7 linked regions of the Homo sapiens genome follow. The protein of the gene in region 1 interacts with the protein of each later gene in a pairwise test. Each region holds a gene or a part of one and is shown in the gene's direction. Other genes may lie near its edges. The genes, in order: NUDT1, HIP1, RNF11, HMOX2, LAMP2, HTT and CASP6.

What was found.
Region 2: the proteins of NUDT1 (region 1) and HIP1 interact in binary tests that used the Homo sapiens proteins (3 or more experiments, as listed by UniProt).
Region 3: the proteins of NUDT1 (region 1) and RNF11 interact in binary tests that used the Homo sapiens proteins (3 or more experiments, as listed by UniProt).
Region 4: the proteins of NUDT1 (region 1) and HMOX2 interact in binary tests that used the Homo sapiens proteins (3 or more experiments, as listed by UniProt).
Region 5: the proteins of NUDT1 (region 1) and LAMP2 interact in binary tests that used the Homo sapiens proteins (3 or more experiments, as listed by UniProt).
Region 6: the proteins of NUDT1 (region 1) and HTT interact in binary tests that used the Homo sapiens proteins (3 or more experiments, as listed by UniProt).
Region 7: the proteins of NUDT1 (region 1) and CASP6 interact in binary tests that used the Homo sapiens proteins (3 or more experiments, as listed by UniProt).

The regions. Positions count from the first base shown.
Region 1 is NC_000007.14:2,248,436-2,251,645, forward strand, and holds the end of NUDT1 (oxidized purine nucleoside triphosphate hydrolase), read left to right. Parts: intron 1-875; exon of another isoform or gene 876-1,257; intron 1,258-1,421; coding exon 1,422-1,567; intron 1,568-2,206; coding exon of another isoform or gene 2,207-2,262; exon of another isoform or gene 2,263-2,300; intron 2,301-2,393; coding exon 2,394-2,566; 3' UTR 2,567-2,710; downstream 2,711-3,210. UniProt on the Homo sapiens protein: Oxidized purine nucleoside triphosphate hydrolase which is a prominent sanitizer of the oxidized nucleotide pool. Catalyzes the hydrolysis of 2-oxo-dATP (2-hydroxy-dATP) into 2-oxo-dAMP.
Region 2 is NC_000007.14:75,550,442-75,553,941, reverse strand, and holds part of HIP1 (huntingtin-interacting protein 1), read left to right. Parts: intron 1-352; coding exon 353-489; intron 490-3,500. UniProt on the Homo sapiens protein: Plays a role in clathrin-mediated endocytosis and trafficking. Involved in regulating AMPA receptor trafficking in the central nervous system in an NMDA-dependent manner. Regulates presynaptic nerve terminal activity.
Region 3 is NC_000001.11:51,267,273-51,270,609, forward strand, and holds part of RNF11 (RING finger protein 11), read left to right. Parts: intron 1-2,683; coding exon 2,684-2,853; intron 2,854-3,337. UniProt on the Homo sapiens protein: Essential component of a ubiquitin-editing protein complex, comprising also TNFAIP3, ITCH and TAX1BP1, that ensures the transient nature of inflammatory signaling pathways. Promotes the association of TNFAIP3 to RIPK1 after TNF stimulation.
Region 4 is NC_000016.10:4,482,898-4,486,397, forward strand, and holds part of HMOX2 (heme oxygenase 2), read left to right. Parts: intron 1-739; exon of another isoform or gene 740-857; intron 858-3,500.
Region 5 is NC_000023.11:120,425,648-120,428,472, reverse strand, and holds the end of LAMP2 (lysosome-associated membrane glycoprotein 2 isoform A precursor), read left to right. Parts: 3' UTR 1-2,325; downstream 2,326-2,825. UniProt on the Homo sapiens protein: Lysosomal membrane glycoprotein which plays an important role in lysosome biogenesis, lysosomal pH regulation and autophagy.
Region 6 is NC_000004.12:3,081,181-3,084,680, forward strand, and holds part of HTT (huntingtin), read left to right. Parts: intron 1-3,500.
Region 7 is NC_000004.12:109,688,128-109,690,786, reverse strand, and holds the end of CASP6 (caspase-6 isoform alpha precursor), read left to right. Parts: intron 1-1,218; coding exon 1,219-1,457; 3' UTR 1,458-2,159; downstream 2,160-2,659.

The DNA.
Region 1 (3,210 bases):
CCATACCAAACAGGAGTTGAGAAGGCGGCTGGGTTCCTTGAGGTGTGGAATGTCATGCACTCCTCCTTTCTTGCGTGGAAAGCCCGAGGTATAAAGTGTGTATGATGTTTGCTTTTTTTTTTTTTTTTTTTTTTAAGACAGGGTCTAGCTCGGTTGCCCAGGCTGGAGTGCAGTGGAGTAATCCCAGCTCACTGCAGCCTCCAACTCCTGGGCTCAAGCATTCCTCCCATCTCAGTCTCCTGAGGAGCTGGGACTACAGGCGAGTGCCACCATGCCCAGCTAATTTCTGTCCTTTTTGTAGAAACAGGGTTTTGCCATATTGCCCAAGCTGGTCTCAAACTCCGGAGCTCAAGCAATCAATCCTCCCACCTTGGCCTCCAAAAATGCTGGGATTACAGGCATGAGCCACCCTGCACCCAACCTGTTTGCATTTTTATTTTTTAACTTTAAGCTATTAAGGGTTAATGTTTGCATTTCTTAAGGGAAAAACAGAGGAGAAAGAGCCAAAGGAAAAACACTGAAATGGTAGCATTCCTGGGTGATGAGTTTATGGCGTTTTGTTTCCTGGTTGTCTATAACAAATATGTAATTTTTAAATTAGCAACAGCGTTAGACTACTTCGGGGAAACCTGGCTCTGTGTGCCACGAAGCAGGGAAGGGCTTGTTCCCAGGCGCAGCAGCACTTGGGCATCCCGTGGTGAAGTCAGCCCCTTACACCTCCTCCAGGCACAGCTGTGGGGAGCATGTCCCGAGAAGGCGCAGGAAGAGGCCCAGGCCACGTGTCCCGTGTGGTCAGCCTGGGGACCAGAGTTAAAACCAGAGCTCCTCCTTCAGGAAACAGATCATAGAAGCCTGTGGTTTCATCCTGTGTTCTCAGAGAAGAGGCACCAGGCTGGAAAGACATTTCTTTGGGCAGACAGGCCCAGAGTATAGGGCCCAGGTTCCCAGAGCAAGCGTCCCAGGGCCCCGGCGGTCGTAACTACCGCTGCATGGGCTCTGATGCTCAGCCGCGGAAAAGCAAGTAACCGGGAATGAAGGAAGTGGGGTCAGTCCCAACCCTGCCACGTGCGGGTCTCGAGACGGTGGACAAGTGGCTGGACTCCACTGGGCCTGGGCTGTCACTGGTACACAGAGGGCACTGGGCTAGAACTGCGTTCCTCCCACCAGAGGCTCCACACCATCTCCGGGCCCCTCCCCAGAGCCTCTCAACCAAAATCAGTGTCTTCAAAGTTCAAGTTGATTCTGAAGCTCAGCCAGGTCGGGACCAGATAATGCATTCTAGGGGACATCCTCCTGGGTCTCCCATCCACCCTGGTGGCTCCCTGGGCTGTGTGTAGATGCCCAGCTCCTCCTCCCTGCCATCGTGTGGGCATGGCACCATGCCCTGACGGCCTCCCTCCCCTGCCCACCTCTGCCCGCAGGGAGCTGCAGGAGGAGAGCGGTCTGACAGTGGACGCCCTGCACAAGGTGGGCCAGATCGTGTTTGAGTTCGTGGGCGAGCCTGAGCTCATGGACGTGCATGTCTTCTGCACAGACAGCATCCAGGGGACCCCCGTGGAGAGCGACGGTGAGTCTCACAGGGCCTGCTCCCCCTCCCCACTATGCGGGTCCCATCTCCTGGCTGGGAGAAAGGCCATCCGCCCAAACCATCTCTGAGTGCCAGGGACCGGGCAGCCTGCGTCCCCCTCCACCCCACAGTGCCAGCGTGGGGCCCATGAGCCGTGGTCTCTGCACCGAGGCTCCAGTAGCGTACCTGCCCCTGCTCTGCGCCCACCCTAAAATGAGAAACACGGTAATGAGGATGAAATATAAACGATCGTCAGGTTCCTCACGATCACTCAGTGAACTCCTCAGAGAGTCAGTGTACGTTTGGGCTGGCCAGACGCAGTGGCTCACCCCTGTAATCCCAGCACTGTGGACTGTGGGAGGCCGAGGCAGGAGGATCGTTGAGCCCAGGAGTTCAAGACCAGTCTGGGCAACACAGTGAGACCCCATCTCTACAAAAAAACATGGTTTTGTTGTTGTTGCTGTTGTTGTTTTGAGACGAAGTCTCGCTCTGTCGCCCAGGCTGGAGGGCAATGGCGCAATCTCGGCTCACTGCAAGCTCCACCTCCCAGGTTCACACCATTCTCCTGCCTCAGCCTCCCAAGTAGCTGGGACTACAGGCGCCCGCCACCACGCCCGGCTAATTTTTTTGTATTTTTAGTAGAGACGGGGTTTCACCGTGTTAGCCAGGATGGTCTCGATCTCCTGACCTCGTGATCCTCCCGCCTCGGCCTCCCAAAGTGCTGGGATTACAGGCGTGAGCCACCGCGCCCGGCCAAAAAAAACATGTTTTTTAAGCATGAAGTTTGGGTTGCACCTCAGTGCCTCCTCTTCCCCCATTGGTACAGAAATGCGCCCATGCTGGTTCCAGCTGGATCAGATCCCCTTCAAGGACATGTGGCCCGACGACAGCTACTGGTTTCCACTCCTGCTTCAGAAGAAGAAATTCCACGGGTACTTCAAGTTCCAGGGTCAGGACACCATCCTGGACTACACACTCCGCGAGGTGGACACGGTCTAGCGGGAGCCCAGGGCAGCCCCTGGGCAGGAGACGTGGCTGCTGAACAGCCGCAAACCATCTTCACCTGGGGGCATTGAGTGGCGCAGAGCCGGGTTTCATCTGGAATTAACTGGATGGAAGGGAAAATAAAGCTATCTAGCGGTGGTTTTTTTTTTTTTTTTTTGGAGATGGAGTCTCTCTCTGTTGCCCAGGCTGGAGTGCAATGGCACGATCTCGGCTCACGTCAACCTCCGCCTCCCAGGTTCAAGCGATCCTCCCATCTCAGCCTCCCGAAGAGGTGGGATTACAGGCGCACATTGCCACACCCAACTAATATTTGTCTGTTTAGTAGAGATGGGGTTTCACCATGTTGACCAGGCTGGTCTTGAACTCCTGACCTCAGGTGATCCACCTGCCTCAGCCTCCCAAAGTGCTGGGATTCCAGGCGTGAGCCACTGCACCCGGCCGGTCTCTAACCTTTCAAACGTTCTTCTCCAGACACCAGCACAGCCTGCCAGGTCCCGTCCACAGGAAGCTACCAGATGTGCTGGGCTTCAGCCCGCACTGCTGCACAGAGGTGGGAGAGGATGGAGACTCTGTCCCCGAGGTGGGCAGCTGGCCCAGGGCAGAGACACACATGCTCAGTGCCACAAGCTGGGGATGTG
Region 2 (3,500 bases), about 73 Mb from region 1:
AAAACCCCATCTCTACTAAAGATACAAAAACGATGGGCCAGATGCAATGGTTCACGCCTGTAATCGCCGTAACACTTTGGGAGGACGAGGTGGGCAGATCACCTGAGGTCAGGAGTTCGAGACCAGCCTGGCCAACATGGCGAAACCCCGTCTCTACTAAAAATACAAAAATTAGCCGGGCATGGTGGCGCACCCGTAATCCCAGCTACTTGGGAGGCCGAGGCAGGAGAATCGCTTGAACTCAGGAGGCGGAGTTTGCAGTGAGCCGAGATGGCGCCACTGCACTCCAGCCTGGGCAACAAGAGCGAGACTCCATCTCAAAAAAAAAGTGTCTATTGCCTTGTATCTCCAGCACTGACCGAGGCCTGTAAGCAGTATGGCAGGGAAACCCTCGCCTACCTGGCCTCCCTGGAGGAAGAGGGAAGCCTTGAGAATGCCGACAGCACAGCCATGAGGAACTGCCTGAGCAAGATCAAGGCCATCGGCGAGGTACTTGGAGTAGTATCATTGAGGAGCATTGTTATTCTTCTGGGTGTGCGTGCTGGTGAATGGCCAGGGAATCGGTGATGTTCTGAGCTAGTTCTTTCTGCACTTAGAACTTGATTCTAGAAAGAGATTGTTAAAATTGGAAAATCTGGCCGGGTGCAGTGATTTATGCGTGTAATCCCAGCACTTTGGGAGGCCGAGTCAGGAGGATCACTTGAGGCTAGACGGGATGGCTCACGCCTGTAATCCCAGCACTTTGGGAGGCTGAGGTGGGCAGATCACTTGAGGTCAAGAGCTAGAGACCAGCCTGGCCAACAGGGTGAAACCCTGTCTCTACTAAAAATACAAAAATCAACCCAGCATAGTGGTGCATGCCTATAATCCCAGGTACTGGGAGGTGGAGTCAAGAGAATTGCTTGAACCCAGGAGGTGGAGGTTGCAGTGCACCGAGATCATGCCATTGCACTCCAGCCTGGGCATAAGAGTGAGATCTATCTCGAAAAAAAAAAGGATCACTTGATCCCAGAAGTTTGAGACAGGCCTAGGCAACAAAATGAGACCCTGTCTCTTTAAAAATTAAAAAAAAAAAAATTTAAAAAGGAAAAACCTCCTGAAGGACTTTCCAGCTATATTTAATTCACTGGCTGTTAGCTGAGAATCTACTATGTTGTCATCATTACACTAGGCAATATCAAAGAAGTATAGGCAGCTCCCCTGTCTCTGAGGATTTTTATCTAGGTGGGCAGGTAATACCCAAAATGGAAATAACACTGTGTTCATTCATTTACTAAAGATGTAGTGCCGAGCATGGTGGCTCACACCTGTAATCCCTGCACTTTGGGAGGCCGAGGCAGGAGGATCACTTGAGGCCAGGAGTTCAATATCAGCCTAGGCAACATAGTGAGACCCTGTCTCTACAAAATAAAATTTTTTTTTTAATTAGACAGGTGTGATGTCACGCACCTGTAGTCCCAGCTACTCGGGAGGCTGAGGCAGGAGGATCGCTTGAGCCCAGGATTTGGAGGCCACAGTGAGCTATGATTGTGCCACTGCACTCCAGCCTAGGCAACAGAGTGAGACCCTGCCTCTGCTATAAATAAATATGTCCTGTATACCAGAAATTGGGTTAAGTATATATAGGGACAGAGAAGACATGGACTCTATGGAAAAGAAAAATAAGAAAACCATTTCTATGCAGTACAGTTTTTTTTCATTTTTTCCCCAGTGTTATGAATTGGAATATATTGGTTAAGATACAAGGATAGGGCCAGGCACGGTGGCTCACGCCTGTAATCCCAACATTTTGGGAGGCCGAGGCAGGTGGATCACCTGAGGTCAGGAGTTCTAGACCAGCCTGGCCAACATGGCAAAACCCCATCTCTACTAAAAGTACAAAAAATTAGCCAGGCGTGATGGTAGGCGCCTGTAATCCCAGCTACTTAGGAGGCTGAGGCAGGAGAATCACTTGAACCTGGGAGGCTGAGGTTGCAGTGAGCTAAGATCGTGCCTTTGCACTCCAACCTGGGCAACAGGAGCGAAACTCCACTCAAAAAATAAATAAAAAATAAAAGCCATGAGGATAGACTGTCTAATTGGAGTTCCAGAAGAAGATAATAAAAAGACCACATCCAGCCAAGGTGGGTGGATCAATTGAGGCCAGGAATTTGAGACCAGCCTGGGCAACTTAGTGGCGCCCTGTCTCTACAACAAATTTAAAAATTGGCCGGGTGTGATGGTGAGCACTTTTGGTCCCAGCTACTCAGGAGGCTGAGGCAGGAGGATCACCTAAGCCTGGGAGCTCAAGACTGCAGTGAACCGTGTACTCTGCAGTGAATTGCAGAGTGTACTCTGCAGAGTGGTTCACCTGCAGTGAACCACTGTACTCCAGCCTGGGTGAGAGAGTAAGACCCTGTCTCTAAAAAGAAAAAATAAAAAGATCAGGGCCAGGTGTGGTGGCTCACGCCTGTAATCCCAGCACTTTGGGAGGCTGAGGTGGGTGGATCACTTGAGGCCAGGAGTTTGAGACCAGCCTGGCCAATATAGTGAAACTCCATCTCTATTAAAAATACAAAATTAGCCAGTTGTGGTGGCTAATTTTGTAATCCCAGCACATACCTGTAATCCCAGCTACTTGAGAGGCTGAGGCAGGATAATCCTTTGAGCCTGGGAGGCGGAGGCTGCAGTGAGCCGAGATTGCACCACTGCACTCCAGCCTGGGCGACAGAGTGAGACACTGCCTCAAAAAAAAAAAAAAAAAAAAAAAAAATTATCATCTACATCTTTGCCTCCCTAAATAATAGAGTTAGTTTCACATGATATAGACTACAGGTAAATGGAGTCCTACTGTATATATTCTTCTACAACTGGCTTTTTCACTCCACATTCTGTGAGATTAATCCAAGAAGATAAATTCATTTTCACTGCTCTCTCATTATCTATTGTGTGAATATCGCTTAATTCATCCGTCTGTTCTCTTGGTGATGGACACTTGGGTTATTTCCAGTTTGGGTTGTTATTAATTTGCCCCTATGATCATATATGCACACATGTCAGTTTCTCTAGAGTATATACATAGAATCAGAATTACTAGGTATTAGGATGAATCTCACACATAGAATGTTGAGTGAAAAATCAAGTCATGGAAAAATATATACAGTAGGATTCCTTTTATATAAAGACTCAAACATTCAAACTTAATAGGGATGCATCTATGTGGAATTAAAAAATAATAATAATAAGACAGGCCAGGCATAGTGGCACATGTCTGAAAATCCCAGCACTTTGGGAGGCCGAAGCGGGAGGATCACTTGAGGCCAGGAGTTTGATACAGCCTGGGCTACAAAGCAAGACTCTGACTCTACAAAAAAGTTTAAAAGTTAGCAGAGCCTAGTGGTGTGTGCCCGTTGTCCCAGCTACTCAGGAGGCTGAGGCAGGGAGGATCACTTGAGCCCAGGAGTGGGAGGCTGCAGTGAGCTATGATCGCACCACTGCACTCTAGCCTGGGCAACAGGCTT
Region 3 (3,337 bases), on another chromosome or scaffold:
CAGCTGGGGACGAAACACAGTAGCTTTGCAAATATAAAGTGGGAGCACAACCTAGCACTGGCGTTGGAGGTCCTCAAAACAGTCCCCAGGTTTGGTGATTCAATAGGAGGGCTCTTAGGACTTAGTATATAATCTTACTCACATCTATGATTTGTTACAGCAAAGAATCAAAGCAAAATCAGCTAAGGGGAAAGGTGCTTTGGTCTAAAGGGAACTAAGCACAAGCTTCCAAGAGTTATCTCCTAGTGGAGTCACACAGGACATGCTTAATTCCTTCAACATATATGAAAGGTTTTCTGCCAGAGAAGCTCATTTGGAGACTCAGTGCCCCAGGTACTGATTAGGCACCCACTGCCTAGCATATGACAAAATTCCTGATTCTCAGAGGGGAAGCAGGTGTTGAACATAAACCATATAGTGTTCGCAGATAGGGAATGGTGGGAACCACCCCCAAATCCATATCTTTTTTTGTTGTTAAGATGGAGTCTCTCTCTGTTGCCCAGGCTAGAGTACAGTGGCAAGATCTTGGCTCACTGCAACCTCTGCCTCCCGGGTTAAAGCAGTTCTCTTGCCTCAGCTTACTGAGTAGCTGGGATTACAGGCGTGCACCACCACGCCCAGCTAATTTTAGTATTTTTAGTAGAGATGGTGTTTTACCATGTTGGCCAGGCTGGTCTCGAACTCCTGACCTCAGGTGATACGCCTGCCTCGGCCTTTCAAAGTTCTGGGATTACACGCATGAGCTACCATGCCCAGCCATCACATCTTTTAAAATTGTTGTTTTTATACCCCTGTCTAATCTTCTACTCACTCAGTGTCTGTTAGCCAACAATTGAATCAGGATTCCATTTTGCTGCCTAGAAAATCAGTGGCTGTCTAGTTATGAAACAATTGATAACTCAGATATCAAGCCATTTTAAAACAAGTATCATGGGAATTAAAATTTAAAATTAGGCATGTGTGGTAAGAAGGGTGAGGCCACATTCATCTTTAAAATATCAGGAGGTCTTAGTCATTTCCTTTCCTCTATGGTTTTCTGAACCATGTAAACTGAAATTAGATTGTTCAATCATTTTAAATATCTAAAAGATATAGAGAGGGTTCCTTTGTTTTAACAAAAAAATACCAAAGGAGAAAATACACTCATAACGTGAATTAAAATATAGTTTTTATTTTCTTCTTTAATGTTTATTAATGTTTCCCCGTAAAGTAGAACTTTCCTTTTCTGTTCTGCTTTCTGTGTTCTCTACACGTATGTGAACCACAAGACTGAAGAAATCTAGCCTCTGAAAAACCCATAGTTGGAGTTTATTTTCTCTAAAACAATTTAGTTATTTTTGTTTGTTAGGTTCAAGGATTTAAGAGACCCTTTATATTATCTTAGTCTTAAACCAATTTGTTCCCAGTTTGCGTGTGGATGACAGCTCATCAAAACTGGTCAACTAGGACTGAGGCTAAGATTCAGGAAGGTAATTTAGACTGGAAATGGTAATTCAAGGGTTGAAGAACTCAGAGCTGGCAGAGATCACAACAGAGTCCAAGAGTTTGTAGTATTCAAAGAGAAGCCAGAAAGCCAGGACCAAAGCCAAGGACAGTAGCACTTAGCTTAAAGTCTGCAAAGCAGAGAATCATGATGGGGAGAATCATGACGTTGGGGAGATGTTAGAATAATTTACAAATATTGGCATTTACAAAGCTCTTAGTTATCTCATGATTATATCAACTCTTTAAAGTGGGTACTGTTATCTGCTTTATTCAAAGACATTAAGAGACTTGGTCCAAGCAATCACAGTAAGTAGCCGAGCTGAGACTGAAATCTTATAATTTAATTCTTCAGACTGAAAATCTCATCTTCTGAGATAGTAGTGTTTTTCAGACTGCTCTGTTGATTCTGAGGATTCTGCAAAGGTAACCAAGGTGAGGGCTTGGGGATGGGGAGCCTCATCCCTTCTAGGCCACACTCCATCCCAGCTTCATTCCATCAGAGTTGCTCAGTTTTAAATATTATTATAGGCCAGGCACCATGGCTCAACCCTGTGGCCCCACTACTCAGGAGGCTGAGGTTGGAGGATTGCTTGAGCCCAGGGGGTTGAGTTTACAGTAAGTTGTGTTTGTGCCACTGCACTTAAGCCTGGGCAACAGAGGGAGACCCTATCTCAAAAAAAGGTGGGGGTTATACACACGATTCCTTTGAATTGTTTTGTTGTGTAAAAAATCAGTTGGATTAGGAGCAGCAGAATTCTAATTTCAGTATTGTCAATTAGTGACTGTAGGCAAGCTTGGTCCTATGAAATGGGAAAGTTAGTCTTAGATAACTTTTAGATTTATTTTTGCCATAGTCCAGTCCATTTAAAAAGTTTTAAAAATTATTTTTAGAGATGAGGTCTTGCTATGTTGTCCAGGCTGGTCTCTTATCATGTGGAAATAGTTCATTTAACATTCCATGCCAGTTCAGTGAAGTCTGTGTTTATATCCTTTAGGCAGAATGAGAATGTTTTGGTGTGTGTATGTTTTATTCTAGTAGCTGAAGTTAAGGCAGGGTGAAACACAGTCATACAGCCAAACACTAGCCCAGCTTCCTACCCCTCCCAGGGCTCCCTTTCCCTTCTATCTCTGACCAAAAAATAAGCCCTCGAAAGGTTTTTAAAAAATAATCTTTTTCCTCTATATTTTAATATTTTAGGAACAAGTTCCAGTTCCAGTCTACCACCCAACACCTAGCCAGACTCGGCTAGCAACTCAGCTGACTGAAGAGGAACAAATTAGGATAGCTCAAAGAATAGGTCTTATACAACATCTGCCTAAAGGAGTTTATGACCCTGGAAGAGATGGATCAGAAAAAAAGATCCGGGAGTAAGTTTTAATTAATTTGTACATTTCAAAGTTTTATTTTCAGATTGCTTTTGAAAAATTTGCCTTTTCTCCTGCACTTTAGAAAGTCAGACATTTAATATATTGAAACACTTCGCTTAATGCAAGAGAATGTTTAATTTTTTTTCATAGCTCTATTACTGGCTACTAGCAAGAGAATGTTATGTAGTAATTAAGAATTTTCACAGGCCGAGCACAGTGGCTTATGCCTGTAATCCCAGCACTTTGGGAGGCTGAGGTCGGGGGATCACTTGAGGCCAGGAGTTCGAGACCAACCTGGCCAACATGGTGAAACCTCATCTCTACTGAAAATACGAAAATTAGCCAGGCATGGTGGCACGCGCCTGTAATCCCAACCACTTGGGAGGCTGAGGTGGGAGAATCACTTGAAACTCTGTCTCAAAAAGTAAAATAAAGTAAAATAAGAGAAAGTTAGTGTTAATGAAGAGAGCTTTAACTTACAGCA
Region 4 (3,500 bases), on another chromosome or scaffold:
TGCATGCCTGTAGTCCCAGCCACTAGGGAGGCTGAGGCAGGAAAATCGCTTGGACCCTGGGGGCAGATGTTGCAGTGAAATGAGATCACGCCACCGCACTCCATCCAGCCTGGGCGACAGACTGGAAGAAAAAAAAAGGATACAGATGAATAGCCAGATGGAAGAGATGTATAGGGTGAGGCATGTAGGAAGAGGCATGAAGCTTCTACGCCCTCTCTGGAACTTTCGTGTATTCAGCTATCCTGAAGCTAATGCAAACCCTGGTGTGTGTGTGTGTGTGTGTGTGTGTGTGTGTGTGTGTGTGTGTGTGTGTGTGTGTGTGTGTGTTTATGGAGGCTTCATTACAAAGGCATAATTGAATACGTTATTGGCCACTGGTGATCAACTCAACCTTTAGACCTTCTCCCGTCCCCTGAGGTTAAGGGGGTAGGGCTGAAAGTTCCCACCCTCTAATCACATGGTTGGTTCCCCAGGCAATCAGCCCCCATCTAGGAGCCCACCAAGAGTTACTTACTTACAACAAAAGATGCTCCTATTACCCAGGAAATTCCAAGGGATTTAGGAAATTACAAAAGTTTTAGGAGCTCTGTGTCAGGAACTGAGGTTAAAGACCAATATCAGAATGAAGGATTCTCCTAGTGCCCCCATCTACAAAGGTTTTAGGAGCTCTGTGCCAGGAACCTAGGGTGCAGATCAAATATATCTATAAATCTTTTTGTTTGTTTGTGTTTTGAGACAGAGTCTTGCTGCGACACCCAGGCTGGAGTGCAATGGCGCTATCTCGGCTCACTGCAACCTCCGCTTCCCGGATTCAAGCGATTCTCCTGCCTCAGCCTCCCGAGTAGGTGGGACTACAGGTGTGCGCCACTATACCTGGTTAATTTTTGTATTTTTAGTAGAGACGGGGTTTCACCATATTAACCAGGCTGGTCTTGAACTCCTGACCTCAAGTGATCTGCCCACCTCAGCCTCCTGAAGTGCTGGGATTACAGGCATGAGCCGCTGCATCCAGCCTCAAATTTATCTCTGTATCTTCTTCTAAATTACAGTATCACACCCGTGCATATGCCCAAAAATTTTTTTTTTTTTTTTTTTGAGACGGAGTCTTGCTCTGTCGCCCAGGCTGGAGTGCAGTGGTGCGATCTCGGCTCACTGCAGGCTCCGCCTCCCAGGTTCACGCCATTCTCCTGCCTCAGCCTCCCGAGTAGCTGGGACTACAGGCTCCCGCCACCATGCCCGGCTAATTTTTTGTATTTTTAGTAGAGACGGGGTTTCACCGTGTTAGCCAAGATGGTCTCAATCTCCTGACCTCATGATCCACCCACCTTGGCCTCCCAAAGTGCTGGGATTACAGGCGTGAGCCACTGCACCCGGCCTCATATGCCCAAATTTTAAAGGAGGCACCACATTCAAGTCCAAATGCCTAAAGGTAGAAGGATCAAGAAACAGTAGTATGAGGCCATTTGAGAAGTATATATAGTTATCCCTCAGTATCTGTGGAGATTAGTTCCAGGACCCCTCAAGGGTACCAAGATCCAGGATGCTCAAGTTTCTTTTCTTTTCTTTTTTTTTTTTTTTTTTGAGACGGAGTCTTGCACTGTCACCCAGGCTGGAGTGCAGTGGTACGATTTCGGCTCACTGCAATCTCCACCTCCCGGGTTCAAATGATTCTCCTGCCTCAGCCTCCCGAGTAGCTGGGATTACAGGTGTGCACCACCACGCCTGGCTGATTTTTGTATTTTTAGTAGAGGTGAGGTTTCACCATATTGGCCAGGCTGGTCTCGAACTCCTGACTTCAGGTGAGCCGCCTGCCGCGGGCTCCCAAAGTGCTGGTATTACAGGCATGAGCCACTGTGCCCAGCTTAAGTTTCTTATATAAAATGGTGTATAGAATTTGCATATAACCTATGCATATCTTCTGTATTCTTTAAATCATCTGTATTTATAATACCCAATACAGTGCTATGTAAATAGTTGTTATACTGTATCGTTTAGGTAATCATGACAAGAAAAAAAATCTGTACATGTGTAGTACATATGTAGCCATCTGTTGTTTTTTTTTTCCCTGAAGATTGATTGGTTGATTGAGACGGCATCTCACTCTGTCACCGAGGCTGGAGTGCAGTGGCGCAGTCTTGGCTCACTGCAACCTCCACCTCCTGGGTTCAAGCGATTCTCTTGCCTTAGCCTCCCGAGTAGCTGGGATTACAGGTGCCTGCCACAACCCCCGGCTAATTTTTATATTTTTAGCAGATTCCGGGTTTCACCATGTTGGCCAGGCTGATCTCGAACTCCTGACCTTAAGTGATTCACCCACCTCCACGTCCCAAAGTGCTATGATTACAGGGGTGAGCCACCATGTCAGGCCTTTTTCTGAATATTTTTAATCTGAGGTTGGTTGAATCCACTGATGCAGAGCCCATGGATATGGAGGGCTGACTGTACTGTATTGAGCTTCTAAGGTATGCAGAGTATTGGCACTGAGGGGATGTGCAAATACAACAACAAACCAAGCATAGTCTTTGTTTACTAGGAGCTGGTAGTAACTGTGGGAAGACACAAAACAGTAAAATCACTTTGTAAGGTTTATGAGAGTTTTGAGAGGCCAGGGAAGTTAAAGAGTGGAGAAATGGAGAAAATGGGAGAACTTGTACTGAACCCATTAGGACAGAGGAGGAAGGGAAGAGAAGGAAGGAGGCCAAAGAAAGAAGAAACCCTTCTTAGAGCACTCAGGGTCTTACTGAAAACTTTACCCATAAAAAGAGAATGTCACTGATAGACTCCTTTTAGAACAGGGATTGATTTTTTTGTTTTTGTTTTTGTTTTTATTTTTGTTTTTGTTTTTGAGAGAAGTCTCGCTCTTGTCCCCCAGGCTTGAGTGCAATGGCTTGATCTCGGCTCACTGCAACCTCTGCCTCCCGGGTTCAAACAATTCTCCTACCTCTGCCTCCCAGGTAGCTGGGATTAAGGCACCTGCCACCACGCCCGGCTAATTTTTGCATTTTTAGTAGAGACAAGGTTTCACCATGTTGGCCAGGCTGGTCTCGAACTCCTGACCTCAGGTGATCCACCCACCTCAGCCTCCCAAAGTGCTGGGATTACAGGCTTGAGCCACCATGCCTGGCCACAGGCAACATTTTTAAACCATACGATTGTCCTGGAGAGAGAATCTGAAGCCTTGCTCTGATTCTGAAAGGGATTTGCAACCAAAAAAGGATAAGGATTGTTCTGACAAGTACCCTTTCTTCCCATCTTCAAAAGTACACATCTCTTAATTTGTGTCTTCAAACACAAATTGTGTTCAAAAAAGGAAGTATTTGAGTAGATTAAAGACAGAAACCCTAGGACATTCCTTTGTAAACAAACAGCCTTTTACCAAACACCAACTGTCAAGGGACTTGCCTGAGTACTTGTCCAAAGGACAGCGTGTCCCCATGTGTAGGCAGTGGTCTAATCTGGTTCCTAGGAGAGGACTGCTGAGGCCACAGCAACTTAACTGG
Region 5 (2,825 bases), on another chromosome or scaffold:
TAGTGTTTGTTTGTTTTTTTCAATTAGAAGTTACGTTTCCATTGGCTAAAAGCCAGGACATGCTGTGCAATAGATTGTTTAAGATATGCAGACTAACTTCAGTGAGTTCCTAGCTAACTTGGGCATGAGTACACTTATTTAAGACAAAATATATTAGGACCAATTTTTTTCTGTTTTTTTTCTTCCTTTGTTAAAGTATAATTAAAAGAAAAATTGTGGCTTAGAATTTTTTAAGTAAATAATGATTTTAAGCCCCTGGATCCAATTATGAAAGCATTTTTGCTGATGTGTAATTTTATATGTTACAGTTACTTATATTTTACTACTTTGATGTTATTTGCAAAATCAAAGGTGTTAAAGAATTTAACTTGCTTCAGGAAATAAATTCAAGAACATAGTGGATTCATTTTCATTGGTGGCAGACACGAAATTTGGTTCATGATAAGACTTCCTTTCCCCACCTCCTGATCAGCATTATTTAAATCTGTATTTTTCTGTTAGTTAAGAAAGAAATGGCTTCATGATATTGTATTTAATAGCAAAAGTTTGGCTGTCTTCTTCATTACTGTTAATAGCTACTATATTTTAACAAGGAGATTTCTTTTTTTGTTGTTGTTGTTCTAGAGTTTGGAATATACTGATTATCTCAGACTTGACATTTATACTGAAGGATGAAGTAAGACCTCCAGCTTTTTTTAAAAAAGGTGTTGATTTGGAACACCTGTATGGGTTATGGTTTATTAAGGTTATGGTTTAGAAAGTTTTTTTCCCTCAGAGCCTTAACTTGTTAAGAAGGTTCATTTATCCTGCACTGAAAACAAAAACTCTATATACTTTGTTTGTGTGCCTCCTGCACTCTCCCATTCCCTATGTGAATATGCTCTAGTTGATATTTTTAATATATTGATTTCTTTTTTCTCACAGCAACAAGTGCTTACTCTAGAGGTTAGTGGGCCCTGATATGTCATCAGTCAGATGCCTGCCTAGCCAAAGCTGGACTAAGATTATTCTGTACATTTGTTGATCTTGATATAGACTTATATCCCTGTAGGGACTGCTAATGGCTCCGGCTTCTGGAGTAAGGTACTGGAGACCACTCATCCCTGTGTCTGCTTGATTGGTTCAGCTGTTGAATTGCCCTTTTATTTGGAAGCAGTGTTGAAGTTGTCTAGGGTTCAAATGGCTGCTTTGTACACCTGTCATTAGTATAAGGCAGATGTTTATTTTATCAAGCTATTTTATCTCTACATTTAACTAAAAACAAAAGTTCCCAAAGATCTGCCTTCACTTCAGAAATTTTTTTTGGATTAAAAAAATTAAGCCTGAACCTTAAATAAAGTGAGTTGGTTATTCATTCCAAGGATTAAGTCCCAATCTACCTCTCAGCACAATGCAGAAGCTCACCACTGTATTGCTGCCATTAACTCATGCCAGAACCCTTTGCCAATAACTGGAATTACAAATTTTTGTTAAAGAAAATTTATCAAGATCTTTCTTTACTGCCTTCTCTATATGTACATCTCAAAAACATGTACATCTCAAAAACTGGAGTAGAAAGTTAGATTGCTCAACTACAACTCCTCTAGAACTCTATAGCTCTGACATACAGATTCACACTCTCCTCTATTTGCTAAGTATGTAAAGAATGTTTTCTTTTAAAATGTTCTCTTTTGAGAACAACTGCTTATTTGTTATAAAAGCATTTGGTTAAAATGATGTCATCATAAAAAACAGTGGCTTTGTTTCAATACATATTTTTGAGATGATTATCTAGAAGCCAGATTAATAAAATCAGCTTGTGACCTTGCTAAGCATATAAACTGGAAATTCAGATACATTCAAAATTATGGGTTCATTTAAAAGTGTTCTACCTTTTGGGTATGAGACTAATATCACTAATTCCTCAATAGTTATCATGGCTCTATCTTAATTAATTAGAAAATATGTGTGTTTAATTCTTTGAGAATTAAAATAGAGAATATTAACAGAGGGTTAAAAACTGCTTCAACTCCAATAAGATAAAGGAAGCTCAAAATCTATGAGCTGAGTGTTCAATTAGCTTTGCCTACTGAGTTCAATTTTATGTCAATACAACAGTGGATCAGACAGTACGACTTTGAACTGGTGAATGTAAACAATTGTTTTTCACCTAAGCTGCTTTGGAAGAACTGATGCTTGCTGCTAACTAAAGTTTTGGATGTATCGATTTAGAGAACCAATTAATACCTGCAAAATAAAGCATACTGTGGTACTTCTGTTTGATCTAGTATGTGTGATTTTAGATTGATGGATTAAAAATTAATAAAGATCATACATTCCATACCACTATGGATAACCTCATTTTTATTCCATATGCTCAGCCTTAAGAGCTTAGACTTAATTGTATAATCTAAGTTTCTTGAATTCTAGTCTCTTGGATTGTCAACAGGAATCATAGGATCTCATAGATCTGCAACTTAACCAAGTCCCGTCATTAGGAAGGCACTAGTACAGAACCTTTAGTACAGACACCTCAAATAGGGGGACCTACTTAGTCATGGAAATTACAAGAAAACATCAAAAACAAAATATGGAAATCTAACAAATGTAAGAACATCATAACAAACGTACTTTCCGCGTATGTCTGTCTGCATTGATGAACTATACTAATTGTTGAAGTTCATTTCATTCTGAGTGAGATATACCTCAGGGATATGGTGGGGCAAGGGGAGGAGCTATCCATTTTGTGAATTTCCTTTAAATTCCTTACAATCTAGTCTAATGCTTAATTTTTATATAATTGGATAAAACAACAACACATACATAAACATACTCCTTTTTACATG
Region 6 (3,500 bases), on another chromosome or scaffold:
TCGCATCTTAACAATATTGTCTTCCACCTATGAACATGGGCAAACTTTGTGTAAATGGTCAGATTGTAAGTATTTCGGGCTGTGTGGGCACAGTGTCTCTGTCACAGCTACGCGGCTCTGCCATTGTAGCATGAAAGTAGCCATAAGCAATATGTATGAGTGTCTGTGTTCCAATAGAATTTTATTAATGACAAGGAAGTTTGAATTTCATATAATTTTCACCTGTCATGAGATAGTATTTGATTATTTTGGTCAACCATTTAAAAATGTAAAAACATTTCTTAGCTTGTGAACTAGCCAAAAATATGCAGGTTATAGTTTTCCCACTCCTAGGTTAAAATATGATAGGACCACATTTGGAAAGCATTTCTTTTTTTTTTTTTTTTTTTTTTTTTGAGACGGAGTTTCACTCTTGTTGCCCAGGCTGGAGTGCAGTGGCGCGATCTCGGCTCACTGCAACCTCTGCCTCCCAGGTTCAAGACATTCTCCTGCACGGCCTCCCTAGTAGCTGGGATTACAGGCATGCGCCACCACACCCAGCTAATTTTGTATTTTTAGTAGAGACGGGGTTTCTCCATGTTGGTCAGGCTGGTCTTGAACTCCTGACCTCAGGTGATCCACCCGCCTCAGCCTCCCAAAGTGCTGGGATTACAGGGTGTGAGCCACCACACCCTGCTGGAAAGCATTTCTTTTTTGGCTGTTTTTGTTTTTTTTTTAAACTAGTTTTGAAAATTATAAAAGTTACACATATACATTATAAAAATATCTTCAAGCAGCACAGATGAAAAACAAAGCCCTTCTTGCAAGTCTGTCATCTTTGTCTAACTTCCTAAGAACAAAAGTGTTTCTTGTGTCTTCTTCCCAGATTTTAATATGCATATACAAGCATTTAAATGTGTCATTTTTTGTTTGCTTGACTGAGATCACATTACATATGTATTTTTTTACTTAACAATGTGTCATAGATATTGTTCCATAGCAGTACCTGTAATTCTTATTAATTGCTATGTAATATTTTAGAATTTCTTTTTAAAAGAGGACTTTTGGAGATGTAAAGGCAAAGGTCTCACATTTTTGTGGCTGTAGAATGTGCTGGTGACATATTCTCTCTACCTTGAGAAGTCCCCATCCCCATCACCTCCATTTCCTGTAAATAAGTCAACCACTTGATAAACTACCTTTGAATGGATCCACACTCAAAACATTTAGTCTTATTCAGACAACAAGGAGGAAAAATAAAATACCTTATAAAGCACTGTTTAATATTGTATTAAATTGGATCAATTTGGGGGCTAGAATGTATGTTAGAGACATGATATGTCCATAGGTCCTTGCTATCACAGTGAGGTCTCAGGGACAGTCGTTTGGTATCATTTGGGATCTCATAAGCAGACTCTCTCTGCTTGACCTGACAAATCAGAGTCTGTGTTTTAACAGGTTCAGTGAGTGACTTACATGCACATTGGAGTTTGGGAAGCTCCACTGTAGGTGCTTAGACCTTACCTTTGTTGTTGCTAATAACAATGCAAGCATTTGGGAGGAAGACCTGTGTTGCTCATATGTGTCCAGGTGTAGCTGAGGTGGCCTTGCTTATCTGCTGTAGGGCCGTTGAGCATTTCTGTAGCTGTGATGAGTGAGCTGAGGTGAGCCTGCGGAGAGCTCCCAGCCATTGGTAGTGGGACTCGCTTAGATGAACTGGAAGGACCCTTTCATCTGAGCAGCCACTATGGAGAAAAACAACCGAATGAGGGGAGAGACAATGTGCAATTTTATTTAGGGCACAAAGGAGAGCTGTGGTTAGAAGGTGACATTTGAGTGGAAAGGGGGCAAGCCATGTGTATAGCGGGAGAAGAGAGGTCCAGGCAGAGTTAACAGAAGGCAGAAATGCTTTCCATGTTTGAGAACCAGTAAGGAGGCCAGTGGCTGAAGTAAGGTGAAGGGCAGAAATAAGGATGAGGCTGCGAGAGATGAGAGGTTAGAGACGAGCGTCTTGTGCACCAAGATAAGCTTGTGTGGTCAAAACAAGTAGTTTAATTTATGTTTTTAAAAGATCATTTTGGCTGGGCACAATGGTTCATGCCTGTAATACCAGTAGTTTGAGACGGTGTGGTGGGAGGATTGCCTGAGGCCAGACGACCAGCATAGCCAACATAGCAGCACCTATAAGGTCTCTACAAAAAACTTTAAAAAATTAGCTGGGCATAGTGGTGTGTGCCTGTAGTCCCAGCTACTCAGGAGGCTGAGGAGGCTGGAGGATTGCTTGAGTCCAGGAGTTTGAGGCTGCAGTGAGCTATGATTATGCCACTACACTACAACCTGGGCAAGAGAGTGAGACCCTGTCTCTAAATATACACACACACACACACACACACACACACACACACACACACACACACACACACACACATATATATGTATATATATGCATTTAGATGAAAAGATCACTTTGACAATACCACATGCTGGTGAGGATTTAGAAAAACTAGGTCACTTATTGCTGGTGGGAATATAATATAGTACGGCCACTCTGGAAAACAGTTTGGCAGTTTGTCATAAAACTGAACATACCGTTAGTATACAGCCCAGCAGCAACTACAATCCTGGGCATTAATCCTAGAGAAATGAAACCTTAATGTTCACATAAAAACCTATACTCAAGTATGCATAGCAGCTTTACCCATAATATCTAAGAACTGGAATCAGCTCAGATGTCCTTCAACAGGTGAATGGTTAAACTACTCAGTAATAAAAAGGAATGAGCTACTGATAGCATGCAACAGTTTAGGTGAAGTTATGCTAATGAAAAAAGCCAATCCCAAAAGGTTATACATACTGTATGATTCTATGTTTTTTTGCAATGGCACAGTTTTAGGGATGGAGAATAGATTAGTGGTTGCCTGGGGTTAGAGATGGGGTAGTAGAGTAGGTTAGTGGTGGCAGAGGAGAGAAAAGAGAGGGAGGTGAATGTGGTTATAAAAGGACAACACAGGGGAATACTTGTAATGGAAATGCTTTGTCTTTTTTTTTTTTTTTTTTTTTTTGGCGACAGAGTCTTGCTCTGTTGCCCAGGCTGGAGTGCAGTGGCATGATCTTTTCTCACTGCAACCTCTGCCTCCTGGGTTCAAGTGATACTTGTGTCTCAGTCTCCCATGTTCAGAGTGAAACAAACCAGAGGTAATGTTCATCCAAATAATCCAACACACATGACATTAAAACATCAAGATCAGGTCGGACGTGGTGGCTCATGCCTGTAATCCCAGCACTTTTGGGAGGCCAAGGTGGGCAGATCACTTGAGGTCAGGAGTTCGAGACCAGCCGGGCCAACATGATGAAACCCCATCTTGACTAAAAATACAAAAATTAGCCGGGCATGGTGGTGTGCACCTGTAGTCCCAGCTACTTGGGAGGCTGAGGCAAGAGAACTGCTTGAACCCGAGGGGCAGAGGTTGCAGTGAGCTGAGAGTGCGCCATTGCACTTCAGCCTGTGTGACAGAGTAAGA
Region 7 (2,659 bases), on another chromosome or scaffold:
TTTGATTGGTTTGGGTCAGATCTTTCGGTTGGGACATGGTGATTCCATCCTGAAGCTCACAGACTTAGAATTTCTTTGACCACATGGCACAGAGTGATAAATGAAAGTGTAAAGTACCTTACAGAAAAATAATTCCTGAGAGTTATGTTGAGTAAAGCAACAGTCTAATTAATTATATTAGTATTAGCAGCCTACCATCAGTTACTGAGGGTGGTAGTGCCATTGTGGTAATTGTCATGGAAAGCTTTAATTTTTTTTTTTTTTGAGACAAGGTCTCAACTCTGTCACTGAGGCTGAAGTGCAATGGCATGATCATGGCTCACTGCAGCCTCAATTTCTCAGGCTCAAGCAATCCTCCCACCTCAGCCCCCCTGTAGCTGGGACTATAGGCATGCACCACCATGCTTGGCTAACTTTTTAATTTTTCGGTAGAGATTGGGTCTTGCTATGTTGCCCAGGCTGGTCTCAAACAATCCTCCAGCCTTGGCCTCCCAAAGTGCTGGGAGTACAGGTATGAGCCATTGCGTGCGTGCGTGCGTTTTTTTTTTTTATAGTCTCACTCTGTTGCCCAGACGTGTGTGTGTGTGTGTATTTTTTTTTTTTTTTAATAGTCTCACTCTGTTGCCCAGGCGGGAGTGCAGTGGTCCAATGTCAGCTCACTGCAACCTCTGCCTCCTGGGTTCAAGTGATTCTCCTACCTCAGCCTCCCGAGTAGCTGGGAATACAGGTGCCTGCCACCACGCCAAGCTAATTTTTGTAGTTTTAGTAGAGATGGGGTTTCACCATGTTGGCCAGGCTGGTCTCGAACTCCTGACCTCAAGTGATCTGCCTGCCTCAGCCTCCCAAAGTGCTGGGATTATAGGCATGAGCCACCATGCCCAACTGAAAAATATTTTGATAATGGTTCTTTGCTTTTGTAGTAAATAATTTTGACTTCTTTTTAGTAATCTCATGTCTCAATCATTGTCTATCTTGGGAATTTTTTAGGAAATGGAAGAAATTATACAGAATTAACCCCGTGTATATAAAACTATATAGAATTAATCTCTTTTCCCATTTGAAAAGAGTCAAAAAAATTTAAAAGCCATTTATATCATGGACACATCTTAAGACTCTTCTAAGGATTTTTAAGAACTTATACTTCTGTAACTAAAAAGAATACACACAGTAATTGAAAGCCAGAAAACTGCAGCAACATTTTCCTTCTCACTTTTTTAGGATATTATTCTCACCGGGAAACTGTGAACGGCTCATGGTACATTCAAGATTTGTGTGAGATGTTGGGAAAATATGGCTCCTCCTTAGAGTTCACAGAACTCCTCACACTGGTGAACAGGAAAGTTTCTCAGCGCCGAGTGGACTTTTGCAAAGACCCAAGTGCAATTGGAAAGAAGCAGGTTCCCTGTTTTGCCTCAATGCTAACTAAAAAGCTGCATTTCTTTCCAAAATCTAATTAATTAATAGAGGCTATCTAATTTTACACTCTGTATTGAAAATGGCTTTCTCAGCCAGGCGTGGTTACTCACACCTGTAATCCCAGCACTTTGGGAGTCCAAGGTGGGCGGATCACCTGAGGTCGGGAGTTCGAGACCAGCCTGACCAACATGGAGAAGCCCCGTCTCTACTAAAAATGCAAAAAAAAATTTAGCTAGGCATGGCGGCGCATGCCTGCAATCCCAGCTACTTGGAAGGCTGAGGCAGGAGAATCACTTGAACCCAGGAGGTGGAGGCTGCGGTGAGCCGAGATTGCGCCATTGCACTCCAGCCTGGGCAACGAGTGAAACTCCGTCTCAAAAAAAAGAAAATGTCTTTCTCTTCCTTTTATATAAATATCGTTAGGGTGAAGCATTATGGTCTAATGATTCAAATGTTTTAAAGTTTAATGCCTAGCAGAGAACTGCCTTAAAAAAAAAAAAAAAAAGTTCATGTTGGCCATGGTGAAAGGGTTTGATATGGAGAAACAAAATCCTCAGGAAATTAGATAAATAAAAATTTATAAGCATTTGTATTATTTTTTAATAAACTGCAGGGTTACACAAAAATCTAGCTGATTTAACTTGTATTTTGTCACTTTTTTATAAAAGTTTATTGTTTGATGTTTTTAAAGGTTTTTGAAATCCAGGAATTAAATCATCCCTTAATAAAATATTCGAAATTCATATTTTATTACATTTTTCTAACTCACATTCTTGTTCATTTGTGTAATTGATAGATGTTTTTTACTCGGTCATTTAAATGTTTAATATTTCATCTACATATGAATTACCACATTTTGTGTATGACTTTAATTCCTACTTTAAAAAAAATCAGCATTCCAGAATTGTTGTATGGCATTCTGAGGATGAAATAGAAAACATAATTCTTAGCCACTATAGGTTGAACACCTGCAAAATCTGATTCTGTCAGCATCTTCCATGTTAAGTTCCTACAAACAGTCCAACAGTCATCAGACCCATTCACACACAATCACATTAATAGAATAACAGATGTTACTTTCAAGGTTCAATTCTTATTAATATGATATAGAATCTGAATAATACTGTTTTGTTAATAATCTGCCAGAGGCTGAAGAAAGTTAACTGTTTTGGCTTCGATACCTGAAACTTGTGATTTGCAGGTTCAAAAGCAATCGTTTATATACACTGTTTCAGTTGAAGTT